Linked DNA regions of Homo sapiens: region 2 is linked to region 1. Evidence: fine-mapped expression QTL. A gene starts in region 1. The other region holds a variant in brackets. All regions are shown on one strand. Distances are from middle to middle. Region 1 holds the start of FBXL5 (F-box and leucine rich repeat protein 5). Region 2 overlaps FBXL5 (F-box and leucine rich repeat protein 5).

Region 1 (8,338 bases):
ACCACAGCCTACTCTTCTCTCAGAAATCAATTCAAAGAGACCACTCCTGACACTTTAATGTGGAGCTGACCGTGTAACTCCCTTTGCTCCCACTATACCCTATTTGGATTTCCATCCTAGCATAGATGTTATTACATACTGGACTGTAAACTTTTTGAGACTAGAGACCACATGTCACATTGCCAACGTCTTTCTGTAGTACAAGCTACTACAGAGTAGACGGTAGAAACTCCAATGCTCACTGACAGAATTAATGGAGTTAACCTTGGAGAACTGGAGAAAAGACTGAGAAATTGAAGTAAAATGGAAAAAGGATGTCATTCAATATAAATATTTACTAACATCATCCCAGTCTGAAAGGTCAGTGAATTAGCAGGAGATTTCTTAGCAGATTGTTCCCAAAAAAGTAAGAAACTACTATGATTTAATATAAAGAAAATTAAACTAGGAATCCTAACAATGACTTGGGTTTCCATCTGAATCTACCACTAGCTGCTTATGTAACCTTGGCCTAGCTAATCTAGGCCTCTAAGTCCCCAGCTATAAAACAGAAATACCTTGTCTTTACATAACTCAAAGCACTGTTGTCTGGATAACAAAGGTGAAAAACCTTTCCATAAAACTTTTTACAGATGTAAAAAGAAATCCATGGGCAAAGTATTAAATCGGGTATTGTACAGCAATATTTAAAATGGTCTAAGACATACATCTGTCAGCTTTTGAAAATTTATTTTCTCATCCTATTCACCTTTATACCTAAAAAATAAGTAGACTAACATAACTTTGGAATACATTATACTAACTGGCTTAAGCATATAAGTGGTTTACTTGATGCTAGTAAATAAATGGATGCTTCTAAAATACATTCTACTTGAGAAGTTCAATATTGAAAATAGTAACTGACTTCTTGATAATAACTGGGCATTCAGAGCCCAAATTTGTACAGTGAAATAACTATTTTGTACCTTTTTAGTCTGAGCATAAAAACTAGTTCTCATTTTATATAGTTTTATTGTAAACTGTTTGGTTGGATATCCTTGGTCTATACAACCAAAGGATGGCAAAACGTGAGATGATAAATGGATAAAAACAAACAAGGTACTCTTCCTTTAATTCCTTTAAGATTACTGAACCATTACAAAATACTTATTTTCCACTCTAGCTCCCAAAGGACATCCTAAGAGAGATTTCCATTGGCTATCAGTATCAAGAAGAAATCCAGATGTAAAATTCCTATGCATTTTTTTTTCCCTAAATCGCCTCAGTTTCAGTTCAGAAAATTGGACTTTTAATCTTCGTGATAAACGTATACAACAATCTCATTAACTATATCTAATTAATTCAGAATTAGTAATAATTTTGACTTACACCATGTCAAATTGAAAATGCTTTATTAAACTAGTTATGCAAGTGGGAACATTACTGAAAAGACTCTTGGCTCAGATATCTTGTAAAAAAGCAACTGCATTTTCAAAATTTGTTCAAATACTCTCAACCACCAGGAAGAGACAGAAAAAGAGCGACTAACTTCTTGAAAATTTTAAAATAAGGCTGCTTAGCCTTAGTCTGCAAGTAAATTAAATTGTGATTCTTTATTTTGGGAGGTCACAATCATCTGGAAATCGATGAAAGCTACAAACACCCTAGGAAAATGGACACACGCACAAAATTTTCCATATAATTTCAGGTGATCCTAGGCTACCTCTCCACAGTCTAAAGTGGAGAGAAAACCTTGGATTCTGTTAGTCTTCACTTCCACTTTCGATTTTTGAGACCATTTTTTTTTTCTTTCCTGCTATTAAAGAATGGTGTCTGAATGAACGATATTCAAAAGCCAGAGAGGATAAAAACACTATAATACTGCTAAGTAAAAAATTCAGGGATATACCCTCTTGCTTAATGGCTTAACCATTCCTCATGCTTCTCCTAGATGAGTGGTTCTCACCCTCAGCTGCATACTGCACTCAAATGGAGAGCTTTAATCATTTATACCTGATGTCTGGGTGAAATCCTAATTTTAGTGACCTAGACATCAGGACTTCTAATAGTTTTTAGTTTAAGGCTAATAAGCAACCAAGGTTGCAAACCATTGTCCTAGACAGTCCTGGTGTTTCCAACTCATGTGAACTGGGTGTTTCTAAATTTTCAGAATGGAGGGAGGGAGAAGATGGAGTGCTAAGATTTGAAATTCAACGTCACTGCTTTAAATTGCTGGTCTTGAGTGTGGCCTAACAGTGAATACCCTGGGCATCCTCCAATCGCCTGGCTGAGCTATGAAACACCCCTCTTTTCTGTAGACAATGGTTCTGCATAATGCTATGCAATTTCTGAGAATTCCTAAAAGTTGATTTCTATGCTTAAACAGTAGTCATTTGAATGCTTTATTTAGTTGGATCATTTCCACAAGAAACGGGACTGCCTGAGGTTTGCAGATATCCATGACTTTCCCCAACATAAACTGACAAATACGTGGAATGTTAATATTGTTTTAAAATCACTAGCAAAGGGCCCTGAACCATCTCCACAAAAGTGCCTCTTCAGCTTATGCTGCACCAATTATGGGCCCAAAATGGTTCTCACAGTTAAACCAACTTTTCCTGAGGCCCCCTTTATTCGAGCTCATATAAAGAAATCCAAGAGAGAATTGCTGTCTTATAACAAAATCTACATCCAGTAAGTGTTCAGGGCAATAAAAGTTGCAAGGAAAACGATAACGACACATGAAGAGTGAAGGTTCTTCAGTTCTAAACTTGGCTTTTCTCCCAAATCAAACCAGTGAAGAAAGCCGGGGGTAAAAGGAACCGGGTAGCTGGGAGACGCTGCAGTTCCAGCCAGGAAGCCAGCGAGAGGTGCAGAGGATGGGTGGGTGTCTGCACGGAGAGCCCCGAACAGGCCCGGGGGAGTGACGGGGGACGGGAACAACTACTCGGTGCAGATGGGAGTCCACCGCAGGTGGCCGGCCGGGGCACCCAGGGCTTCGAGGAGGTAGGGCCGCTCTCCTTAGAGGCAGCAGCGGGAGTCCCAGCGCGGCGGTGGGGCCGGCCCGAGGGCGGCCAGTGACGCCGGTAGCGCCCCTCCTCAGCCGCCAGGCCCTCGGCAGGGGACGCCGCCCGCCCCGAGAGCACGTCCGAGGCGGCGGCCAGGCCGGCTCTGCGAAGGCCTCGCAGCGGGCGGGCAGGCTGCGGGAGCGGGCGGCGCTGACAGCTGCGCAGGCGGCTACTCGCGCGGCGACGGCACGGGGCTGCGGGCGCGGCGCAGGCCAGGCCGCCCCAAGAACCCAGCCCGCTCCCCATCGCCGCCCGCACCGCCCACAGCGGGAGGCTCAGCGCTCCGTTACCTTGTCGCAGTAGAGCCCCACCAGCTGCTTCATCCGCCAGTGTGGGGCGGTGAAGACGTCCACTTCTTCAGGAAAGGGCGCCATCGCCACTGCCTCAGCCTCCGCCTCAGCAGCCGCGGCCGCCGCCTCTCCATAGACACCCTCGCCGCGGGGCAGAGGCGGCGCGCCCCCTTGCGCATGCGCCCGCCCCGTCGGCGCGCGCGCCCGGTCGGCTTGGCCGGCGGGGACGCGGGGGCGCGCAGGCCGCCGCCATGCGATCCCTGCGGCCCACGTGACCGGGCGCGCGCAGAGGCTCGCGGCTTCTGCCTCCCGCCCCCACTCTTTTCGTTTTTTGTCGTCTTCATAAGCCGCAGAAGGAACCCAAACCTTTTCCCTGTTTCTTTCACTACATGAAAGCACAGTAGCTGAGGGTAGGGGAAAGTCGTTGCAGTGGCGCTCTCGGCGCTTCTCCCGTTGCTGCCCTGCCCACCACGGCCTTGAGGAGAGGCAGCCAAGCACAATGGCCGCGGTCAGGGCCGCGAGCTCTGCTTGTGCCCACGCCCCGACGCCTGCTTGGCCTGGGTGACCAATGCTTCTGGCCAGGACCTCCGGAGCTGCCCTTCGCCTCCCTGCGATTGGCCCGTGCCAGATTTTTCCTGGGGCCGAGCGCAGACCACCCCGGCCGCCACTCAAAGGCCGGGCCTGGCTCCCACCCAGCGGTTGGTGAACCAGAGCTGCGGGCTCTGAGAGCTTCGGTCCCGGGCGGCAGCCCACAGCGGGCGCGGGGCCTGGGTGCGAGGGGCGGGGCAGAGACCGCGAGAGAGAGTTCTCGTGAAATTCGGGAGACTCAACGTGGGGGAAAAACAGTATCTGGGGATCCAGGTGCGGAAATGCACCTCAAGTGCAGGAACGCGGGTCAGGGATAGGCCCGACGGGCCTTGGGGGTGGGGAGAAGGGTGAATAATGGAAGGTTGGTGCGGGAAAGAACCTTGGTACAAATCCCGCCATTTTAAGCGGAGGTTCGGAGAGAAAACAAGGTCACTAACCCAGGAAAATGTCTGCCTCTTTCCCATAAATCGCCTGGCCCTGGCCACAGACCTCCTGGAGACTCTGTTCTCTGCTCACGCCGGTCAGTCTTAGATTGGTTGGCTGGAGTACTGCTGGACAGATAGAGAAATAGGAGAAAACAGGGAAGCCTGAGAACCTTGGGAGGAATTGTTATTTGCTTAATGGCCAGAACCTCCAGGAGGGCAAGAACCAGATATGCTGTGTTCACCCTTGTTCTCTATTATCTATCACAGTTGCAAGACAACATGGGGATCAGTAAATAGTCAACAAATAATGGAGTAGAAGAAGGTGAGAAAGAACTTTGCAGTGGAATGCACCCTATTTAGTTCTAATCTTATATTACTATATGCTATTATAGACAGTGTGAACAGTGGTTAAACCACAGACTCTGGAAGTTAAGATTCCTGGTTTTGCCAGACACTAGCTATACAACCGTTAACAAGCTATATGACTTCTTTATGCCTCAGTTTGCTCTGACATGAAATGAAGCTAATAATACCTACCTCAGAATCTTTATGAGGATTTATATATTTGAAGCACTTATAACAGTACCGTCTGTAAGCTAGTAATACTTTTTTAAAGCAACTCTATGAGGTAGTGCTGCAGGAAATTAAGTCTTCAAGACATTCTAGTAGTTGCCTAGGGTCCCACAAATTAGTAAGTCAAAAATCTGTCATATAAATCTGGATCTGACAGTACCCCCAGAGTCATTGCATTAGTTGGGATACAGAGATGGCTTATTCACAGTCTGTCTTAAGAAGCAGGAATAAGGCTTAAGAAATAGAATAATAATAAAATATTTGATAAAGATTAATTTCTCTCTTCCTCCTTCTCCCTTTCACCCCGTTTCTCGTTCTTTTGCCAGGACTTTGCCTCTATATTTTTTAATAACCTCCAGAGAGCATTTTCTTATTTACCCTCTATTTCTTTACCTCATACTAATCTTTCACTCCAGCTATCTTGGAATGCAGAATCAGACCTCAGGTGAACCAGTTATATAGAGAAATGAGCTCCATGAGAACATGCACTTTGTTTTATCCTCAGCACTTAGAATGATGTCTGTCATAAAGTGAGTATTCAGTAAATATGTTGGAAAAAAGAATGAGGGTAGTTCATAGCACTGTGTAATTTCCTCATTTTTACTAATGTTTAATATGCTATGTTGTCTTGTCCAATCAACTGTTTGTGTCTGTGCTGTTCACTAGTGTATCCATCTGTAGAACCAGACACATTAAAAAGGTATTTGGCAACAACAACAAAAAAAGTCCATCCACACAGTTTCACTGTAACCCAGATTTGAAGCTCTATAATCAGCTGAAAAGTAGTAACAGCCACTTTGGACACTGGCCATTTCAAGGAATTTGTTTTAGATGACAAAATGAAAGAAAGTGATTTTAAAAATAATCCCTGTGAGTAATTTTTCCCATGGAAAGCTATTAACATTAGCTCCATATGCTGAATTATGTAGCAATTAATCACCTGATATATCCAAAATAAATGACTGACTTTACTGAACTTTAGCTCTAAAGAGGTCATTGATCAGTGTAGTATCATTACCATAGGTTACTGCAACTACAGCAGATTTGGGAGGGTTATTAAGACCAAGGTTGTCACTTTACCTCTCTGTGAGACCTTTTTGGATGTATGACAGCAGATAATTCCAACAGACCATCTAGCAATTGACCACCACAAGAAGTCTGAATAAGGCATGTGAACAGAGCAGTGAAAACCCACATTGTAGAATAACTGGTAGAATTGGTCGTTTCTCTTACCTACTCTCATTCTCTCTCTGGCAACCTAAAAATATAACTTATTCTGTTATCAATAGGCCTCTTCTATAGTAGTTTCCAAGCCTAATTTTGAGAACCCTGGAAAGGGTTATTGGCCAGGGAGGGTCAATTCTAAGGCATTTCACTCCGTTTGAGTATGTGACACAGCACTTTCCCTAATAGGGGATTAGTTGTGAAAACAAGCAATGAAAGAATGTTTACGTTTTGACCCAGTTGGAATCATAGTCCTCACTCAGTACCAGAGTTGATCCTTACTGTCCATCAAAATAGTCAATCAACAACTGCTGCAGCAGGCTGATTTAGGAATTGCTGTGGTTTGAATGTTTGTCCTTTCTAAAACTCATGCTGAAACTTAATCCCCAATAAGGCAGTATTAAGAAGTGGGGCCTTTAAGAGGTGATTGGGTCATGAAAGTTCTGCCCTCATGAATGGCTTAATTCATTCATGGATTAAAGGATTCATGGGTTATCATAGGAGTGGGACTGGTGGCTTTACAAGAGGAAGAAAGACCTGTGCCAGCATGCTGAGTCCCTCGCCATGTGATGTCCTGCACTGCCTTGGGACTCTGCAGAGTCGCCACCAGAAAAAAGGCCCTCATCAGATGCAGCCCCTTGACCATAGACTTCTCAGCCCCACACTGTAAGAAATAAATTCTTTTTCTTTATAAATTACCCAGTTTCAGGTATTCTGTTATAAGCAATAGAAAACAGACTAAGACAGGCACATACAGGATGATGTCTTAATCTACTTTCTCGATAGCCACAGAGGGCTTTCTGGTAGAAGTGGCCCTTAAGTTCAGCATTAAATATTAAGAAAAATTATCCATCTGGGACTCCAGAGACTTAATTTTTTCATATTCAGCGTTAAACTGGACACCCAATATGCAGCAGGAGCTTGAGATATAAAGTTGAATAAATCCTGATTACTGTTCTTGGAATTTCCCAGCTTTTAAACTCAGTTTCATACTATCCACCCCATCCTTAATCAGCTGCAGTGATCAATGTTTCTTCCTCATTAATTTCAGTCCCTCCTGTGCTTTAACTAAATAATATATTTAATGACAAAAAATCAGAAGAATGTCATAAATGGAAGGGTACCCAGTAAAATAATTAATTTCTTAGCAGTTTTAAGTACCTGACATTATGTAATAATGTTTATCTACATTCCCTGAACAAGTAGTAGGCATACATAGTAGGCATAAAATATTTCTTGCTGCATGAATGAGAATTTGAAAAGTTTTTACAAACCAAAATACTCCTGTTATTCAGTAATATACATATATGGTTTTTAAGAAAAACTAATCCAAACAAGCTATATTTAAAGTCCTAATTTCAACAATTGTTACCCTCCTTTAAAGGGTTCTCATTTTGACCTCATAAGCAAAAATTGATTCCTAAACTGGGTACTGGGTAAGATTCAGTTCTGGGAATCTCTTTACTCAGATTTCTAATTCCTTCTACCAGGAGAATGTGAGCTGCACCGCAAACTACGTTAACTGTCCAAATATAGAGTAGTCCCATTCCTTAGATCTCCTTTTGAAGAGAAGTTTAGATAATACTAAAATCATAGTCTCTTTCATTTTAAATCTGGAGATATAATGTGTATAGTGGTCCATAAAGTTTCCTTGCAAAATTTTCAGACAGAGAAGAGCCTTCCATTTCCCAAATATACCTTTATGTCACCTACCTTGCGTCATTTACCTCTTAGTAAATATTGCCAAGTGAACACCAAAATCTTGATTTTCAACCAGAGGCTCTATTATGGGCTGACTTGTAGGGAGAAAGAATGGTTCCATGTGTATGGCCTGAGGGAAAGGTGGCTACTCTCAGGGACAACTTGACTCAGCTGTTTGCACCATGTAGTGAGAAAGTATCACAAGTTTCTGGAATGGAAAGAAATGATAAGTTCCTGTAAAGTGTCAGAGTTACATTCATTGTAGTGATGAAATCTGGCAGGCAGTTGCTTAATCCCTGCCTACAGAGAGGGGAAAAAAAAGTATTAGGAAAGTATCAGTTCTGTTTCCTTCCTCCCTACCCCTGACATTTTTTTTTTTTTTTAAAGAGGGTTTCACTCTGTCACCCAGGCTGGAGTGCAGTGGCACAAACATAGCTTACTGCAGCCTCAAACTCCTAGGCTCAAATGATCCTCCTTTCTCAGCTGCAGA
Region 2 (8,338 bases), 32 kb before region 1:
AAGGTAAAAATGTACACTATTATCACCTCTAATTATCACAGTACTAGAAGTTTTAGCCAGAGCAATTAGACAAGAAAAAGAAATAAATGACATCCAAATTGAAAAGGAATGTCAAGGTGGCACATGCCTGTAATCCCAGCTAGTCAGCAGGCTTAGGTGGGAGGATCCTTTGAGCTCGGGAGTTTGAGTTGAGCCTCAGCAACAAGTAAGACCCAGTTCCCCCCACCCTCCCAAAAAAGTAAAAGGAGTAAGTAAAATTATCTCTATTTACAGATGATAAGATCTTCTATACAGAAAACCCTAAAACCTGTTAGAACTACATAAACTCAGCAGGCCAAGTACACATGCCAATAGTCCCAGCTACTAGGGTGGCTGAGGCAAGAGGATCACCTGAGCTTAGGAGTCTAAGGCTGCAGCGAGCTATGATCATGTCACTGCACTCCAGCTTGGACAACAGAGCAAGACCCTGTCTCAAAAAAGAACAAAAAGAAAATTCAGAAAGATAAAGAGTCGACACACACAACACTCAGTTGCATTTCTATACATCAACAATTAACAATCTGAAAAATAAATTTTAAAAAATCCCATTTAGAATAGCATCAAAGAAAATAAAATATTAAGAAATTAACCATAGAGGTAAAGGACTTGGATACCAAAAACTACAAAAGACTACTGAAAGAAATTAAAAAAGATCTAAACAAATGGAAAGATATCCCACATTCATGGGTTAAAAGACTTAATACTGTTGTCAATTTTACCCAAAGGGATCTACACATTTAATGCAATCCCTATCAAAATCTCAATGGCATTCTTTGCAGAAATAGAAAAAACCGACCCTAAAATTCTGATGGAATCTCAAGGAACCCCAGATACTAAATAACCTTGAAAAGGAAAAACAAAGTTGGAAAACTCACACCTCTTGATTTCAAAACCTACAACAAAACTACAATAATCAAAACAGTGTTGCCACTTCTGTTTAACATAATGCTGGAAATTCTAGTCAGAATAATTAGACAAGAAAAATAAAAGGTCTATTGTTGGGAGCAAGCCCCCCAAAATCTGGCCATAAACTGGCCCCAAAACTGGCCATAAACAAAATCTCTGCAGCACTGTGACATGTTCATGATGGCCATAACGCCCAAGCTGGAAGGTCGGGGGTTTACGGGAATGAGGGCAAAGAACACCTGGCCCGCCCAGGGCGGAAAACCACTTAAAGGTATTCTTAAGCCACAAACAATTGCATGAGCGATTTATGCCTTAAGGGCATGTTCCTGCTGCAGTTAACTAGCCCAATCTATTTCTTTAAGTTGGCCCATCCCTTCGTTTTCCATAAGGGATACTTTTAGTTAATCTAGTATCTATAGAAACAATGCTAATGACTGGCTTGCTGTTAATAAATACTTTGGTAAATGTCTGTTCAGGACTCTCAGCTCTGAAGGCTGTGAGACCCCTGATTTCCCACTTCACACCTCTATATTTCTGTGTGTGTGTCTTTAATTCCTCTAGCGCCACTGGGTTAGGGTCTCCCCGACCGAGCTGGTCTCGGCAGTCTATTTTGGAAAATCAGAAATTAAATTATCTGTCTGTAGATGGCACGACCTTATATGTAGAAAACCCTAATGAATTCACAAAAAAAATGTTAGAACTAATAAATTTAGCTGAATAGTAGGATACAAAATCAACATGCAAAACTCAGTTATACTTCTATATACTAGCAATGAACAATTTGAAAAGTTTAAGAAATAAAATTGTATTTACAATAGCATCAAAATGTGTAATATTTAAGAATAAATTTAACCAAGGACTTGTACACTGAATTAAACAAGAAATGGAAACAAGAATTCAAGTAAATATTTATATGCCAACATTCATAGCAGCATTATTCACAATAGCCAAAAGGTGGAAACAACCTCAGTGTTCATCAACAGATGGATAAACATAATGTGGTATATAAAAAGGAATGACGTTCTGATACATGCTACGATGTGAATAAACCTTGAAACACACTAAGTGAAATAAGCTAGATACAAAAGGACAAGTATTGTATGATTCCACTTATATGAGGGGCCCAAAGAAAGTTAAAAATTTAGATAAGAGGCTATTTTTAATTAACAGCCAAGATTTATTTTCATTCCTATGAAAGCCAGAAAATAATGTATTAAGACCACAAATGGCCCTATCTGTTCCCTATGGTTTCAAACTAACTAAAACCTTATCAATTTAACATTCTCCAGTCAATGCTCCTTCTTTTGAGACAGGGTCTGGCTTTGTTACCCTGGCTGGAGTGCAATAGTGCCATCTCAGCTCACTGCAACCTCTACCTCCAGGGCTCAAGTCATCCTCCCACCTCAGCTTCCTGAGTAGCTGGAACTACAGGTGCATGCCACCATGCCTAACTGATTTTTGTTTTTCTTTTCGGTAAAGATGTAATTTTGCCATGTTGCCCGGGCTGGTCTTGAACTCCTGGGCTCAAGTGATCCTACTGCGTTGGCCTCCCAAAGTGCTGGGATTACAGGTGTAAGCCATCACACCCAGCCTCAATGCTCTTTTAACAAGCTCCACATTACCAACTTGTCAAAACTCATGCTACTCATCCTGAATAAACATAATGACTAAAGCAGGATACACTGAATGCTCCCAACTGGTATACCTGAACATTTCTATTCCTATAAATTAAGTTGTATGTTTACATGAGTTGTATTTTTTCCTCAAACCTACTGACACAAGTTGTACTTACTGTAACTGGTTGACTGAAACACTTTTTAAACCGATACAATGAATGCAAAAAGAGTTGCTTCTAAAAATTAAATTTTTATTTTCTATTTCCTCAGTCTCTCAGGAAATGTACACAGAATGCCCTAATTTTATCTCTCTCTCTACTCAAATGATGCCTGTTTCTTTTCAAAGAAGCCTTTCCTGGTTCATTCAATATGAAGTGGCATTCTCTGTATTCTTAAGTAAAGTACCCATACTTTACTTTTCTTCAGAACATTCAGTCTGATACTATGTTTTCTGTCTATTTCTACCATTAGATTACAAACTGCATGAAGGCAGAGAATTGTCTTAGTTACTCTAGACCTCTAGCAATTAGAACAGTGCAAGAAATGTAGTAGGTGCTCAATGAAAATTTAAATGTTTAGAAAGAATCCTTCAAGATAAGGTTTAATTAAAATGAGGGAATCTGCACTCAGACAAGACTTTTTCAATTAGCCACAGATAAGACAGATCCTACGTGTTCCCTTGTTCCCAAAATGAATTTTTCCTTCAATTCAAACGCAAACTTTCTTTTCAAGAATACCTCACATGCAAGCTCTTCACTACTACTCAGGAAAACCCTAAAGAATAAGTGCAACTTATTTCCAATCCCAACAGCAGTAAATTATCCACTTTGTTCTAAGGTTGATAATATCAGAATTTGTTAATGAAGTGCCAAAAATCATACCCTAAAATAACAACTAAAAACCTTTTCTCTGCTTTTCTTCAAATTTCTCTTAAGAAATTAACTCTCTGCCTTTTCAGGAAGTGGGGAGGGAAACTCTTTGGTATTCAAACAAAACGTTACAATTCTGCTTTTAAATAAAGTGTGCTCCCTTCTAGTGTTTTCCAAAACCTTATACTAGAAGAGTTTCTAAATACTTTGAAAGCAAAAAAAACAAAATTTTGATTCATCAAAATTTTGACTGCCCTTGAAATCAATTTTTAATTATATAAAATTTTAGTAAGTTCTGGGTTTTTTAAAACATCCTAAAAAACTAAAAGATAAGGAAACTGCCACATGGTCAGAAGTCATTGCGGCTCTGAAAGGTCACATGTATTACTTCATTCTTTGAAAAAAACACAAAAACTGGTCATACTGAAAATGCAAACTGAATAGAGCTATAAATAAATTTCAATAAGGTATGACAGTAATAAAAAAATGACAATGAAAAATGAATTACGAGGTTTTAAATTGAACTAAAAATTGCTTTTACTTTCTAAAATCAAGTTGCATTCAAAAACAAAATCATATTACAGTTAGGAATACAGACATGTAATAAAAATTTTTTAAAGAATAAAACTCAGAATAAAGTTATCTTTGCTTATGTTCTTAAACTATAACATATGCCCTTGGATTTGAGAAAACAGAAAATTAATGAAATGATTCACAGCAGCCAAACCACAGTTATACCAGTTACCTCGGGGAAAACACTTTTGGTTACTGTATATGACTTATGAAAAAATTTTACAATAGTTTTTTTTTTTTTTGAGACGGAATTTCGCTCTGTCGCCCAGGTTGGAGTGCAGCAGCATGATCTCGGCTCACTGCAAGCTCCGTCTCCCGGGTTCACACCATTCTCCTGCCTCAGCCTCCAGAGTAGCTGGGACTACAGGTGCCCGCCACCGTGCCCGGCTAATTTTTTTTTTATTTTTAGTAGAGATGGGGTTTCACCATGTTAGCCAGGACGGTCTCAATCTCCTGACCTCGTGATCCACCAGCCTTGGCCTCCCAAAGTGCTGGGATTACAGACGTGAGCCACCGCACCC[G/A]GCCTGTAATAATTTCATATTAAGTATCTTTTCTAATGGTAGGGAGTATTAAGTTTTATGCTGGAAGAATTCTTCATTATAAAATATCTGACATCCCATTATCAAAGAAAAGCATGTATCCAATTTCCAAAGGCTCATGTCAAAGATAATCGATTACTGCACATCAGTTTCCACTTATTGAAAATCTATTGTGTATCATTGTTAGATGCCTTATATATATTCCTCTTACATAAGCCTCAAAGTATAAGGTTAAGTATTTTGCACAAAGCCAGTCATACAGAAAAAAGCAAAATCAATCTACATCAAGTCTGCCATGCTCCCAAGTCAGTGCACCATGGTATTTTCTCCAACAGTGCATACTCGTAACCTAACAAATCTTGAGGTGGGTCCTATAAAACATATAGAACCTAGCTGCTGAAAAGAGCTACCTGTCTGGGCTGACACATGTGTCACCTTCAGCCCTTCTTTCCTCTAGGAGGTTAAAAAAAAAAAAAAAAGTCGGTTTAATCTGCTGAAGATTATGCTTATTAAAAAAAAAAACAGAAAAGAAAATGTAGAACTTCTTCCACATGTTCTCTTTATGACTTAAAAAAGCAACAGAAGGTAAGCTGATCATGATCAAAGACCAAAATTTCTAAACTCTAGCTACATATGAAACTCTAGCTCAGCTTTGGCTTTTGTAAACACTTAACAGCCGTGTAGTCAGACTAAATGACTTCCAGGGACAGCCTACGTTTTCCAAAACCCTCAGTATAAAACTATAACATACAGAAATAATACACAGCAACAGAATATGCATATTTTCTTGTTACATGTTCTTGAGAGTAAAAATTGTACCTTCTTCATCCACTAAAGTACCTTAAAATATGTGATGTAGCCATTTACTAAGTATTTATTAAACTTTAGAATTTATGTTCTTCCATACATCACAATGGATTTGAACTGACAGAAATGAAACTTCATACTGATAACAGAAGTTACACTGCTCCAAAACTCTGAAGTAGGGCAGATCTTGGTTAATCCTTTTTGCTAAGTAAATCAACTGAAAAGAATGACTTAGATCAAAATTTTTATATTCCATTTGGAAATGAGAACACGTCTATTTCTTAATATTCTGGAACTGATAACTCACCTGAGACCATGGTCTGTGATCTGATAACATCCAGATAAACTGAGAAACAGAAGTACACGTCCAGTCTCTTGATCAGATTTTTCACTCCCAAAGTAAATTAAGTCTTTTCCCCTAGGCAATCTAGTCCTTGCTGCTTTTCTACACATTGCAGAAGATTCTGGGAGTGATGACATAGTTCTTAAAGCTGTTCCTGTACAACAAAATGAGTGACCACAATACGCAAAGGCTGGAGAAGCACAATGCTGCTGCCAACAGACACTAGTCCTTAGTCCAACAATGTCCTTACTAAAACAACCAGAGGTGGAACAACTAAAGTTGGATGCTGTTTCCATTACACAAAGACTTTCAACATTTCTATGTCTCCATTCCACAGTATCTTCAATATCAGCCAAATCTTCAGCATCTAACATCCACACATAAGGAGAAGTGAAATTCTCAGAAGAAACAGGCTTAGTCCAGGGGTGTTCATTATCTATTTCTTCTCCAATGCCCTTGTTAGTTAAATCGTGCAAACAGGCATACTGCTTGGTGGACTGCATGGTAATGTCTTTATTTTTCCACGCAGTTGAAGTAATTTTGCTTGTAGATGTTTTCAAAAAGCCACTTTGATGAGATGTCAGAATTCCAAGAGCTCTGGAAATCTTCTCTAGGGCCACATCTGTGATTTTCTCACAACCAGACAGATCAAGATGCCGAAGACTCTGGCAGCAACCAAGCCAAGACCAACTATAATTAAAAGACAAGACTATTAATGAATATTGTTAAATTTTTCAAAAGCATTTGACTATATGCATGTAGATGAAAACCAGAAGAAAGATTTGACATCTAATATAATCACTTAAGTATTTAGTGAATTATCTATTGTTAAGGTACTATTCTTGATGCTAGGGATACAAAAACTCAATGAGAGTAATAAGGAAGTCAAAGTATTCCTAACCTAACAGAAGGGTAGGATTTGAGAGGCGTAAGGATTGGAAGACTTAAGTTTATTATCCTAAAAGTAGTCAGCAGAAGTAAGGCTGCAAACACATGAAAGAAAGAGAATAACCGACGGTTAATGAGGAAGATCCATAAGAAACAAGCTCTAGGAAGATGGAGCATTAGCTTTAGCCCGAGAAGAGTATACCTCTTCCTCTGCAGCAGGAAAAAAGGTGCTGATATAAATAGTTGGGTGGGAAAGAGGGAGTGAGCAATAATACAGAGAATTGGTGGTCAAGGAGATATACTCTGGGAAGAAGGTGGCTTGAAGAAAGTTACACTATACTATTTCAGAGTAACTGTGAAGAATCTAAGAGGGAGCTTTGCCAAATGGCACTTAGAGCCCAACTAAAACTAAAACTTCTTAAAAACATATAATACCAATCTACATGGTTGCACAGCAGGGCTCAAGGGCCTAGACAAAATATAGGACTACAGAGATTGCAAGATAATACAGATGGGATTTTTGGATCAGCTGGGACCTATGAGTAAGAAGTGAAGAACTGGAGGGTGCTATCAAATTATACTCAGACATGACTGAGATTTGATAGTAAAAAATAATAGTATGATTAAACTGCAATTACATAAATGAAACCTTATAAAATAGTTTTTCATTATATTTAAATTGTTTAAAATAACTAACCTGTCAAATGCAGAATCTGAAATGTCAGTCTGGGTAAGATCCAGATGCTCCAGGTTAGGACAAAGCTCTAAAATCTGCCTAACCTAAAAGGCAAGAAATTGTCACTGTAAAGATCTGCAGAACTTCAGTTAGCTAAGTAACAGATGACTATTAGTAAACATAATCTAGTTCACAAACTTTTGTGAATATAAAAAAAAATCACTTGAATACTTGAAAAAAGTATAATAAAATATTCTGGGCTCAAATCCCTGAGAATCTCTTTTTTTTTTTTTTTTTTTTTGAGACAGAGTCTCGCTCTGTCACCCAGGCTGGAGGGCAGTGGCAGTATCTTGGCTCACTGCAACCTCCGCCTTCCGGGTTCAAGCGATTCTTCTGCCTCAGCCTCCTGAGTAGCTGAGACTACAGGCACACGCCACTACATCTGGCTAATTTTTGCATTTTTAGTAGAGATGGGGTTTCACCATATTGGCCAGGCTGGTCTTGAACTCCTGACCTCATGATCCACCCACCTCGGTCTCCCAAAGTGCTGGGATTACAGGCATGAGCCACCGCACCCGCCCAAGTATCTGTTTTAGCAGTTATGAGACTAAACCAGGATTTTTACATTTTTAAGGAACACTCAAGATTCTGATGTAGGAAGTCGTAATATCCACTTTTATAAAACAGTGATTTCATCTCATTTGCCCATCTTACCATGCCTTACATATTATTTAAAAAATCACATAAAACTGGGCTTTATCACTTAACATCTGTGAAACTGAATAAAATGTTTAACCTCTTCTAGTCAGTTTCCTCATCTGTAACATATAGGTAATGATAATTATGCTACAAAGATTGTTGTGAGAACTGCAATGAAATAATAAGTAACCTAGCAGTGTATGCCTACCCATAGGAAGGCACTCAATAATCATTTTTGGGTTTGTTTCCCCTTAATTAAACTCAGGAATGAGCAAACCAAACTCTTATCATGCTGTTTTTCTTAATACCCAAACTAGTGTTAATTTAAACATACCATTTTGCTGGAAACTGCAGAGCTGTATGCTAATACTAAGGTTTTTACA

The links. PIP is the estimated chance that this variant, and not a neighbour inherited with it, causes the effect.
Region 2: its variant is fine-mapped to the expression of FBXL5 in whole blood (INTERVAL, PIP above 0.99).

What each region holds. Positions count from the first base shown.
Region 1 is chr4:15,651,867-15,660,204 of GRCh38, forward strand. FBXL5 (F-box and leucine rich repeat protein 5) reads right to left here and starts at 3,491. Exons shown (of 11, transcript NM_012161.4): 1 at 3,338-3,491. The coding sequence starts at 3,421. It also overlaps a transcript of FAM200B not described here. RefSeq lists silencers at 2,926-3,145, 3,176-3,245, 3,384-3,561, 3,486-3,595 and an enhancer at 3,896-4,015.
Region 2 is chr4:15,619,596-15,627,933 of GRCh38, forward strand. FBXL5 (F-box and leucine rich repeat protein 5) reads right to left here. Exons shown (of 11, transcript NM_012161.4): 7 at 8,290-8,338; 8 at 7,278-7,360; 9 at 5,657-6,382. Among named protein-coding and RNA genes, the nearest start is that of FBXL5, 32 kb to the right of the region's middle. The variant G/A (reference allele first, on the strand shown) is at 4,525.